2 separate regions of the Homo sapiens genome follow, and region 1 is linked to region 2. Evidence: fine-mapped expression QTL. A gene starts in region 2. The other region holds a variant in brackets. All regions are shown on one strand. Distances are between the middles of the regions. Region 1 overlaps MIR2052HG (MIR2052 host gene). Region 2 holds the start of PI15 (peptidase inhibitor 15).

Evidence for each region.
Region 1: its variant is fine-mapped to the expression of PI15 in unexposed skin (GTEx, PIP 0.94).

Annotation. Positions count from the first base shown.
Region 1 is chr8:74,606,696-74,612,089 of GRCh38, reverse strand. All of the region lies in intron 1 of MIR2052HG (MIR2052 host gene), which reads right to left. It overlaps LINC03071 (long intergenic non-protein coding RNA 3071), which reads left to right. Exons shown (of 7, transcript NR_183468.1): 7 at 2,050-2,297. Among named protein-coding and RNA genes, the nearest start is that of MIR2052HG, 9.6 kb to the right of the region's middle. The variant G/A (reference allele first, on the strand shown) is at 2,747.
Region 2 is chr8:74,821,389-74,826,782 of GRCh38, reverse strand. It overlaps PI15 (peptidase inhibitor 15), which reads right to left and starts at 2,249. Exons shown (of 6, transcript NM_015886.5): 1 at 2,108-2,249; 2 at 1,261-1,573. The coding sequence starts at 1,533.

The DNA.
Region 1 (5,394 bases), 210 kb after region 2:
AAGCCCAAGGCAGGCGTTTTACACCTGTGGTGCAAGTGGAGCACTTGAAGATAAGACTCTGTTCACCTTAAGTAGCTTTCCTGAGCTTCGGGGGATGAGCTTGCCCTGAATCCCAGGCTTTGGTTGTCCCTTGCCGTCTATCTGTAAGTAACAAATTTGGTTCATGTAACTTTGTGTGAGTGTTCTATCACACCCAAGTCAGGCAAACAACTGGTGCAGAGTAAACCTGCTTCACAATTTCCTCTACTGGCATTCCAAATAGTTGAACATCCTATCAATCATGATAGGTGGTGTATGGATGGATGAATGGATGGATTTCTGCAAATTTACATGAGGAGCCATAAAGCTGAGGGAACAGATAAATGAAAACCACAGCTTAAGAGATTTATAATCATGAAACATTACATTTTGTTCGTAGTGTCCTTACAAAGTAAAAAAGAAAAGTATTATGTATTATATAATTCTCCTTGTCTAAATAAATAAAATGTACTATTTATGAGAGACTTTCTGAAGCAAGATTATTAAAGAAATGTGTTTTTTACATTACAGCAGGGGATGTTAACAGACATCTTGCAAAAGGCTCACAAATACTATTCACATGGCCATTTAGGAAGGGTCATTTTAAAATCAACTATTAATCAAATTAAATGGCATGTAATTTATGTAATTTTTTTAAAAATCGCCAAATTCTTTCAAAAAATAGTTTTACTGCTTTATATTTCCACCAACAGTATATAAGAGTTCCAGTTTCTCTTCATCCTCTCCAACATTTGATGTTGTCAGTGTTTTTAATATAAGATATTTGTAATAGGTGTGCAATGGTATCTCATGGTGTTTTACTTTCCATTTCCCTAATGAAAAATTGATGTTTAGTGTTTTAATGTGCTTATTTGCCATTATATATATTTTCTGATGTAGCGTCTATTCAAATATTTTGCCAATATTACATTATTTTTATTATTGAGTTTTGAAAGATTTTTATGTTCAAAGTATAAACCCTTTATCAGATATATGATTTGCAAATATTTTCTAGCAGACTGTCACTTATCTTTCACTCTCTTAATAGTGTCTTTCTAAGAGCTGTTCTTCATTTTGATAATGTTCAATTTATCAATGTTTTATTTTGTGAATTATGTTTTTGGTATTATATCTAAGCAGTCTTTACTTAATCCAATTTCCTATGTTTTCTTCTAGAGATTGTGTATTTTTAGCTTGATACTTTTTGGTCTATAATTTCTTTTGAATTCATTTTTGTATATGATGTAAGGTAGGCAGTGGGGTGTTGTTATTCAATTGTTATTCAATTGAATTATTGATATTCAATTGTTACAGCAACATTATTGAAAAACCTATCTGTTCTCCACTGAATTGCCTTTGGTTCCTTGTCAAAAATCAATTAACTGTACATGTGTGAGTATATTTCTGAACTCATCATATTTTATCCTCATGCCAATATCATACTGCTTTGATTATTGTAGCTTTATAAAGGTTTTTGAAGGCAGGAAATGTAAGTCTTCCAAGTTGCCTCTTTTTTTTCAGAGTTTTTTTGGCTATTCTCAGTGGTTGGCATTTCTACATAAATTTTAGAATGAGCATGTCAATTTCTATTAAAAAGAAAAGGACTGCTGAGAAATTTATAGATTAATTTAGATACTTGACATATTAACAATGTTGAATCTTCCAAACTATGAACATAACTCTCCTTTTCATAAGTTTTAAAAATTTTTTCTCAGCAATATTGTATAGTTTGTATTTTACAGGTCTTGCATACCTTTTGAAGATTATTCTCTATTTCATAAGTAAGAACACTATTGTATATGATATTGAATTTTAACTCAATTTAAAATTATTGATTCCAAGAATATACAAACACAATTAAATTTTGTATATTAATCTTGCATCCTGCAACCTTGTTAAATTCACACATTATTCTAGTATCTTTTGAAGATTCCATAGAATTTTTTTTTTGGATGATTATGTTGTCTGCAAATAAAGAACAGATGTAAGCTGAGATGATTGATTTCAGACATTTTTTCTTTTCCATTACAGGTAGTTGGTGCCATACATTTCCCACAGGACTACTATTTTCCAATATCAACATCTTTAATTTATTTATTTATTTTTGTTTTAGTGCACTAGCTGGAAGTTTCGATATAATGTTAAATACAAAGGATGAGAGTAAATATTCTTACATTTTTCCTGGTCTTATGAAGAAAGAATTTTCTTTCACCATTAAGTATTATGTTGTCTGTAGGTTTTTCACATATGTTCATAGTGGGTTGAAGCACTCTCTTTTTAGTCCTAGCTGAGAGTTTTAGGTTAAGAATAAGTATTATTTATTATTATTATTATTTATTTATTATTATAAATAAAATACATTTATTACATTAAATGAGAGTATCTTTTTTTAGTCTAATAATCTGGCATATTAAATTGATTGATCTTTATATGTTAAACTCATTTTGCATTCTTGGAATAAATCATACAAGGTTTTGACTTATTATCACTGTTATATGTTGTTAACTTTGATCAATTAAAATTTTGTTAGAAAGGTTTGTATCACATTTATGAGGAATATTGGCATGCAATTTTCTTCCTTTGCAATATCTTTGTCTGGTTTTGGTGTTTGAGTAATGCTGGCATCGTATAATTGGTTGAAAAATATTTTCTCTTTTATAATTTTCTGGAAGAACTTGTATAGCATTGGCTTTATTTCTTGTTTAAATGTTTGATAGAATTCCCTAGC[G/A]AAGCATCTGGGTCTAAAGTTTCCTGTGTAAAAAATTTTTAACTACAATTCAACTATTTTACTAAATATGGGACTATTCAGGTTATCTATTTCTTCCTCAGTAAACTCTGTTAATTTTTATCTTTCACGGTATTTGTTCTTTTCTTGTAAGTAGTCAAATTTATTCACATATTTTAAGAGACAATATTTGTTATTATCCTCTTAATATCAATAAACTCTTTAGTGATGTCACATATCTTATTCCTGACACTGGTAATTTGCATATTTACTCTTATTTTTATCACTGGTTGCCAAAAAGCCTATTAACTTTATTAATCTTAAAAATTCTTTTGTTTTTATTAATTTTCTCTATTACTTTTATGTTTTCTCATTCATTAATTTCTGCTCTGGTTTTTATTATTATGTTCTGTAACATTAAAAAGTATTTACTTTGGATTTTATTTTGTTTTTTCTTATTTCTTAAAACTTAAGCTGAGATTACTGACTTGAGACCTTTCTTCTTTTCTAATACAGGTAGTTGGTGTCATAAATTTTCCACTAAGTTTTGTTTTAACTTCATCTCACAAAATTTGATACTGTATTTTCATTTTCATTCAGTTCGTAATATTTTCTACATTCCTTTCTTGACACACAGTTTACTTAGAAATGTCTTTATAATTTTCAAATATTTGGAGATTTTTCTATTCATGATTTCTAACTGTGGTCTGACAATATACTTTGTATGAATTTAATTGATTGAATCTTAACTTATGATTCAGAATATGGTCTATCTTGGTAAATATTTAGTGTGAACTATATATTAAATACACATAAAATATACATTGAAAAGAATGTGTATTCTGATTTTTTAGGATGGAGTGCTCTTTGTAGGTCAATAAGGTCAACCTGATTGATAGTGTTAAGACTTCAATATTCTTATAGATGTTTTTTTCTCTTCATCTTATCGTAACTGAGTAACCCAGTTGTTAAAGAAAAAAAGAGTTACAATTTAAAAAATTATTTTCTCTTCTTTTCTCCTTTCTCCATTTCCCCCATTCCCTATTTCCTATTTAGCCCTTTAGAAATGCAATTATAACCTTTTACATCTTCTTCCCCAGACACTCCCTATAGGGCAAGTTCATCTAATTATGTGCTTAGAAGCTCTAGAGCAGAACTCTCACCCACCGAAAAGGTGATCCAAGAGTTAACAGTTGACTTACAACCTAAAATATGCCTGCTATGAAATTTTAACCTACCAGGAAACTGTCTGAAGAGACAGCCGCCAATTTACAACCCAAAGTCCCATGCAAAATTCTCTCCCACCTGGAGAGTTTTTGGACACCTTTACAATCTATTAATATTTCTGCCAATGAAGATGCCAATTCAACTGCCCAATAGATAAGGCACCAAGCTAACATGTAGACACCTCCCACACCTGCTTGCTTTCTCCCTTGTGTGCCATTCATAATAGGCCCCCTTTAAAAGCAACCACTTTCTGATCCAAAGGTGAAGCGGTACCCTTAAGACAGGAAGGCTGTACTTCCGCTAAGCTAGTTTTGTAATAAAGAGTCACTTTCTTTATACCAGACTTTGCTCTTATTAATTGAACTCCATGAGCAGTGAGTGACTAAACCTGTATTTCACTTATACTATTAATTACTGAAAAAGGGTTAAATTCCTGAATAAAATGGTAGATTTGCCTATTTCTCCTTTTTGTTCTATCAGTTCTGGTTTTGTGTATTTTTATTTTTTTAGATGGAGTTTGACTCTTGTCACCCAGGCTGGAGAGCAATGGCATGATCTTGGCTCACTGCAACCTCTGCCTCCTGGGTTCAAGTGATTCTCCTGCCTCAGCCTCCCAAGTAGCTAGGATTACAGGCACCCACCACCACGCCCGGCTAATTTTTGTATTTTTAGTAGAGACGGGGATTTGCCATGTTGGCCAGGCTAGTCTCAAACTCCTGACCTCAGGTGATCCACCCACCTCGGCCTCTCAAAGTGCTGGGATTACAGGCGTGAGCCACCATGCCTGGCCTGTTATGTGTATTTTTTAAGCTCTATTATTAAGTGCTTAAATGTTTAATATCATTTTCCCCTAAAAAACTCACTCCCTTTATTATTGTGAATTAATTATCTTATAGCTACTATTATTTTTATGTTCTGAAATCTACTTTCTTTGATATTAATATAGCCACTCCAGCTTTCTTTTGATTGATGTTAGCAAGCAAATCTTTTTTTTTTTTTAAGTTTTACTCTGTGTGGGTCATTATATTTAAGGTGGGTTTCTTATAGGCTATATATAGTTGGATCTTGCTTTTTTCTCCAATCTTTCAATTTTTTTGCCTTTTAGTTGGGATTTTTAGGCCATTTACATTTAATACGGCTATTGGTAATGTTCAATTTGTCCTTTTTTGCCTTTAGGATTGAGGGTTTTTTATTATTTCATTTTATCTGCCTTTTTTTCTTTGTTACATACTAGCTATGTTTTTGTTGTGTTCTTTTAATGTTTGCTTTAGGATTTAAAGTACAATTTTTTAAAACTTTTATTTTAAGTTCAGGGGTGCATGAGCAGATTTATTATATAGGTCACAGGAATTTGTTGCACAGATTGTCACCCAGGTATCAAACCTAGTACCTACTGGTTATTTTTCCTGATCCTTTCCCTTCTT
Region 2 (5,394 bases):
TGTGTGGCAGATACCACCTTTATCTTCATATTAGAGATGATGAAAATGAAACAGTGTGGTAATGAGTTCATTCAGCATATACTTCAGGACTAGGATTCAAACCCAAGCATTTAGATTATATAGCCCATATTCTTAATCATGAGACTATACTGCTCCTCACACACCAGGACTGATTACATCTTCTCTGTCTTTATAAATTCTAGGAAAATGCATTTTCACAGAGTCTAAATTGTACTTCTATGAACTGTGACTCTGTTACATCATTTAGCAAGTCTTTAGTTTTCCTGTGACATTGGCATCTGCAACTAGCCAAACTTTTTAATATAACTTATTTACATAAAACAAGTGAATCTAGAATATGATAAAAATCCCAAATTTTAATTCAGCACATATAAAACTGTTAGTGGTACCCCCTCCCCTCACCCCAATTTGGAAATACCATATTGATGGTCTTCATTGCCTTAAACAGGCTCCAAGCTGTGCTCTTGTAAGACGCTGGACTTTAAATCATAACCTTGCATAAATTCAAAACCAAATAAAAATTTTAACAAGACTTTTTCCTTTCAATACTAACTTTTTTTTTTACTTTCTAAGTAAAATGATTTAAACATTGTCTATTTTTAAGAAAGAGCAAAAAATGTGTTCACGGCAAGTTGGAACAGTGTGCAAATGCACTGGCTTCACTGTTATCTGGACAGCAAAGCATTAAATCACAAGGAGAAAAAAGTCAGCATGTTCTCTTAGAATACAAATAGGTTAGCGTCAGTAAGAACTTTGTCCAAAAAAGGGAAAAGACACCTACCCAGAGAATAAATCATGCATATGAAACCTATAATTTTAAGAAGTATTTTCAAGAAATGATATAGCTGATAAATATGACTGTGAGATAAAGCACAGAAAAAGTTCATGTGACTTTTTTTAAAGTGGACCTTCCAAATGTGATCAGTCAACATACCCCACTTTTTATCTATGATTCTTACATAAGATACAATTCACCAGTAGCTATGGAACTCACAGAAGAAAGTCTACATAGATTCTCTCTATCTGTCTGTCTCTGTCTCTCTGGACCTCTCTGTCTCTCTGATTCTGTGATGCAACAGTACTCAACATTATTAGGCACATAAGAACCTTAGGTTAAAATATGTAAAAAGTCCATATACCCGGACATATAAACACTCGTGGTCGTTTGAGATTCTGCAGATGTACAATATAAAGCTTTCTCACTCAGAACTTAAAAAAAAAAAAAAGAATTCTTCTTACCATATATTCCATATTTGCTGCCGGTGGGAACACTTTGCCCCGAACTTGATTATGATAATCAAGAATGGCGATCATGTCATTCTGCGAAATGTAGCGCTTCCGCCTGGCTTTGGGGATATCCGCTGAATCTAATTGTGCTTTCAGAGCTGCTTCAATATCAGTGAAATTATTGGTTGGCGGGGATGAGTCAGTGGAATTGAGTAGGACGACGGTACTTGCTTCACAGAGAAGGGAGAACAGGAGTGCACTGCTGACGGCAGAGATTGCTATCATTTTGAGGGGTGGAGAAGAAGAGGCCACCGAGTTTACTTTGCTTTAAAGCAGAAAGGTAGAGTTAGGGTCTATGAAAAAAAATAGGGCCAGAGGGTATGAATTTACAAAGACATCATTTGGGAGCATTGCTTGATTTGACTTTCTTCAAAAATCCAAACAAATGTTGAACTCAAGCCTAGGAGATAACCTACAGTAGAATCTCTATTCATTTTTTAGTGTCATGAGGCAGACCCCTAAGAGGAACTTTGTATAGCAGAGAAAAATAAACAGCATGACCACTAACCCTAAAATGAATGTGAACCATTTGCCCCAAATGTCTGAACCACAAAATATATTACTGCATATTTTCAGTGGGAAATTTTCAGCAATTGAAATTCACCTGGAGAGTGAAGAAAAAATGAATCACAGGTAACAACAGAGAATGTGCTGATAATGTCTGCCAGACATATAGACACACCAAGTGATAGAACACATACAAAAAAGTCATAGTAATCCAATCTCATTTCTTTAAAAAAATGTGAGCTACTTTAAAATCAATGCATGCAATATAAACTTGTTGAGCTAAATAGCTTACCTCTGCACAATGCCAAAATGAATATATTGTTCTTCCAAAAATTTAAGGTTCTTTGCTATGTGGTAGCATGAACTCTTGTAAGAGGAGTGTGTCTTTTTACAAACTCTCTGAGAGCAAAGCTCTGCAAGGTTTGAATGCTGCTGGCTAGAGGAGCAGCTAACAGCTTTTATATGTCACAGTTTGCAACGTCCAGAAAGGGCAGTCTTTCTAAGGGTCTCTCTTAGCCAAAATCAAAGGGGAGGGGTTTGGGGTAGAAAAAAACAGTGATTGGGTGGCAACCTTTTTATGTGGGTGGTGAGGAAATTGAGTCACACCCACAGCTTACAAAGTACAAGCCATAAAAGACAAACCCCTTTTTCTCTGGGCTTCCACCTTTTCTGTGAGTAATTTCTCTCATTTTATGCTTTCTAGTTCCTGGTTCCCATACAAAAAAGAAGAAACAAAGACAAAAAAAAAAAAGACTGTGGGTTCATGAAAAAACAGACAGTTGAGTAACAAGCAGTACATTTTTTTAAGACAGTAAATGACATGGGAGCTAAAAAGAACAAGCTGATATTAAATCAAGAGATCAGCTAACATAGTTAATCTGGGTGGCCACAAATATGATTCGAGAGGGATGCCAGGCAAATCGGTAGTAACCAAACTATAGCATATGATATTAGGATAATAGATGCTCAAGTGGCTGTGTTCTCTGCTTCCATGTGGCTGCATTCCTGTGCTTTATATATTTCTTCTTCTCTCTCTTATTTTACCTTCTCTCCCTTTTTTCTTTCTCTACAGAGTGAGGTCAGAAATTACTTGCTTTTTACCTGCCTTGTATAAAATGTGAATAGAGAAGCTCATGGCAAATGACAGCAGCCAAGATAACATCTGTTTCAGGTTTAGAGCATATAGTTGAAATTTTAAGCAGAGAATAGCTCAGCCTCTCAGGAAATGTATTAGAGGGCATAACACAGAGGCCATGAAGAATTTTAACAGCAGCAGCAGCTGCCAACAATTAGAAGTGCCTTGTTAGGAGGATGTCACAGGGGCAAAGTCTATGTCAGGCAAAGCAAGAAGAAGAATGTGAACATTGGTGCTCTATAATGAAAGGACCCTCCCCAAAATGCGTCATGATCTCATTAACAAAATGTGGACCACTTACAGTCAGTAGCAATAGGAATCCTGGAAAACACACGCTCTTCAGTTTAGAAACTTACTTAACTTACACTGATTTTTTCCAGCTTGCTAATGTGATTGTCTCCCACATGTTTCAGCAGAAGAAATACTATGTGAATTTACAGTCATCAGAAATGATGGTCATGTGGCACACTGGACAGGCAGCCAAGTTTCCTAGGATATATTCCCAGTTGGATCACGAGTAGTATGTGTGGTCAAATGCATACTGTTTAACTCTTCATTGGTGCACCTAAAAATGGGAGAGAAAAGATTCACGTTCTATGGTGAGACAGACATCATCAAGTTCTTTAAGAGGGTAGTGAGGTGTACCAGAGGTGTCACTAAAATTCAAACTACAGTGATGAGATACAGACTTTATAATAATATATACCAAAGTCCAGGTTTTGACACATTTTGATGACTATTCAACTCCTAACTAAAGTGAAATCATTTTAGGAGAGCCATAGCTGAAATATTGAGAGCTTTAAACAAGGAATTAATACTAAACTTGAAAAGGCATAAACAGATATATAAACTCAGGAGGTGAGCAAGGATATTATGAAACATTGGAGCAACTAGAGGAAATTCACATGGTTGTTCACAGCTGCAGATCTTAACAAGTGGAGCTGTCCAACTAGGGTTGCACCACTTTGGAAAGTATTCATGGCACCTTCAATGAATCTCAAATATGCTATATTAAGGATTCCTGAATTAAATCAGAGGTTAGATGAGAAACTCTCTGTAGGCCATCCAGCTCTAAGATCTGTGGACTTTTTGAGAAATTAGTGGCAGCACACATTAGCCTTTACTCTCTACATATCTCACACAGTTTCCCAGCTATCTGAGGAACAAAAGGACTTTTAATACCTGAACAGCAGTCATGAGCCTTTCATTCTCCAGGGTGACTGAGTTCTTGCTTAGAACCTCATAAGAATCGAAAGTTATATTTAAGACTACACCCTTTGTCATATACACAAAGAGGTATTGTCCACCTCTTGGGGTTTGACTTGAAAGATTTCCATAGGGATAAAAATGTGATGCTTGACAAACTTGTCTAAACCAAAAATGGATTTCCTCTAAGTGCAGGAAGTGGCTGGATGGAGGAGGAGGAGAAGGAATTTCTGAGATGCATCTAAACAGGAGATCACCTCTGAGTCCAATTACATAAGGGCAGAGCTGATAGTTGCTTAATCCGGAGACCCTGAGGCATGTCAATGATTTCAAATGTCTTTCAGCACACATGGATTATATTGTGGAATTTCGGACTATTAAGGAAACCCACAAGGCTATGGAATCATAAAAGAAAAGACCTGTGGGAGGAGAGTTAAGAATTCTGCTTCCAAGCAGACATTATTGCCAGAAGAAGTATTTGAAATGCTTTGGAGGTAATTGTAATTTTAAAATACTTGCAAAATTAAGAGGCATACATCCAAGTTGTCAGTAAGAGGACTGCTAATGAACAACTAACAATGAGGTGGTTTTTTTTATGAGGACTCTTCTTGAAAAAGACCATTGACATGTTTTGAAACCTTTAGGTCCTGCTTGCCAACAGAGACAGAAATGGAATGTAGTTATATTACTGAGAAGAAATGCATACACATTTGGCAGCATCTTGAAACCTGTGAGAAAATGGTTGTTATTTTAAAATGGAAATCAGATGTAAGCATTCCAGAATGGTACACCTGCTTAAGCAAAGCTACTTTGACGTGTGTGTGTGTGTGTGTGTGTGTGTGTGTGTGTGTGTGTGTGTATGTATGTGTGTATGTGTCACATATGCATTTGACTTTAGTCTAATTCTTTTCTAATTGAAATATGTTCTGTGGACTAGTACCCTTGAGATCACCTGGAAGCTTGTTAGAAATGCAGAATTTCAGGTCCAGCCAAGACCCACTAAATCAGAATCTTCATTTTATCAGGAATCTTGGATGATTCATATGCACATTAAGGTTTGAGAAGTACTATCTAAATCACTATGCTTCCAGAGACACAGAGAGACAATCTACTGCACACATGCCTGAATCAGCTATTGGAAAAGGCGATCTATCTAATAACATGGAGAGAACAAAAGACAATAGAGGTAGGCCCAAGTGTCTTTGAAGTGGAGAACACAAGTCAACCTCTATTTTATA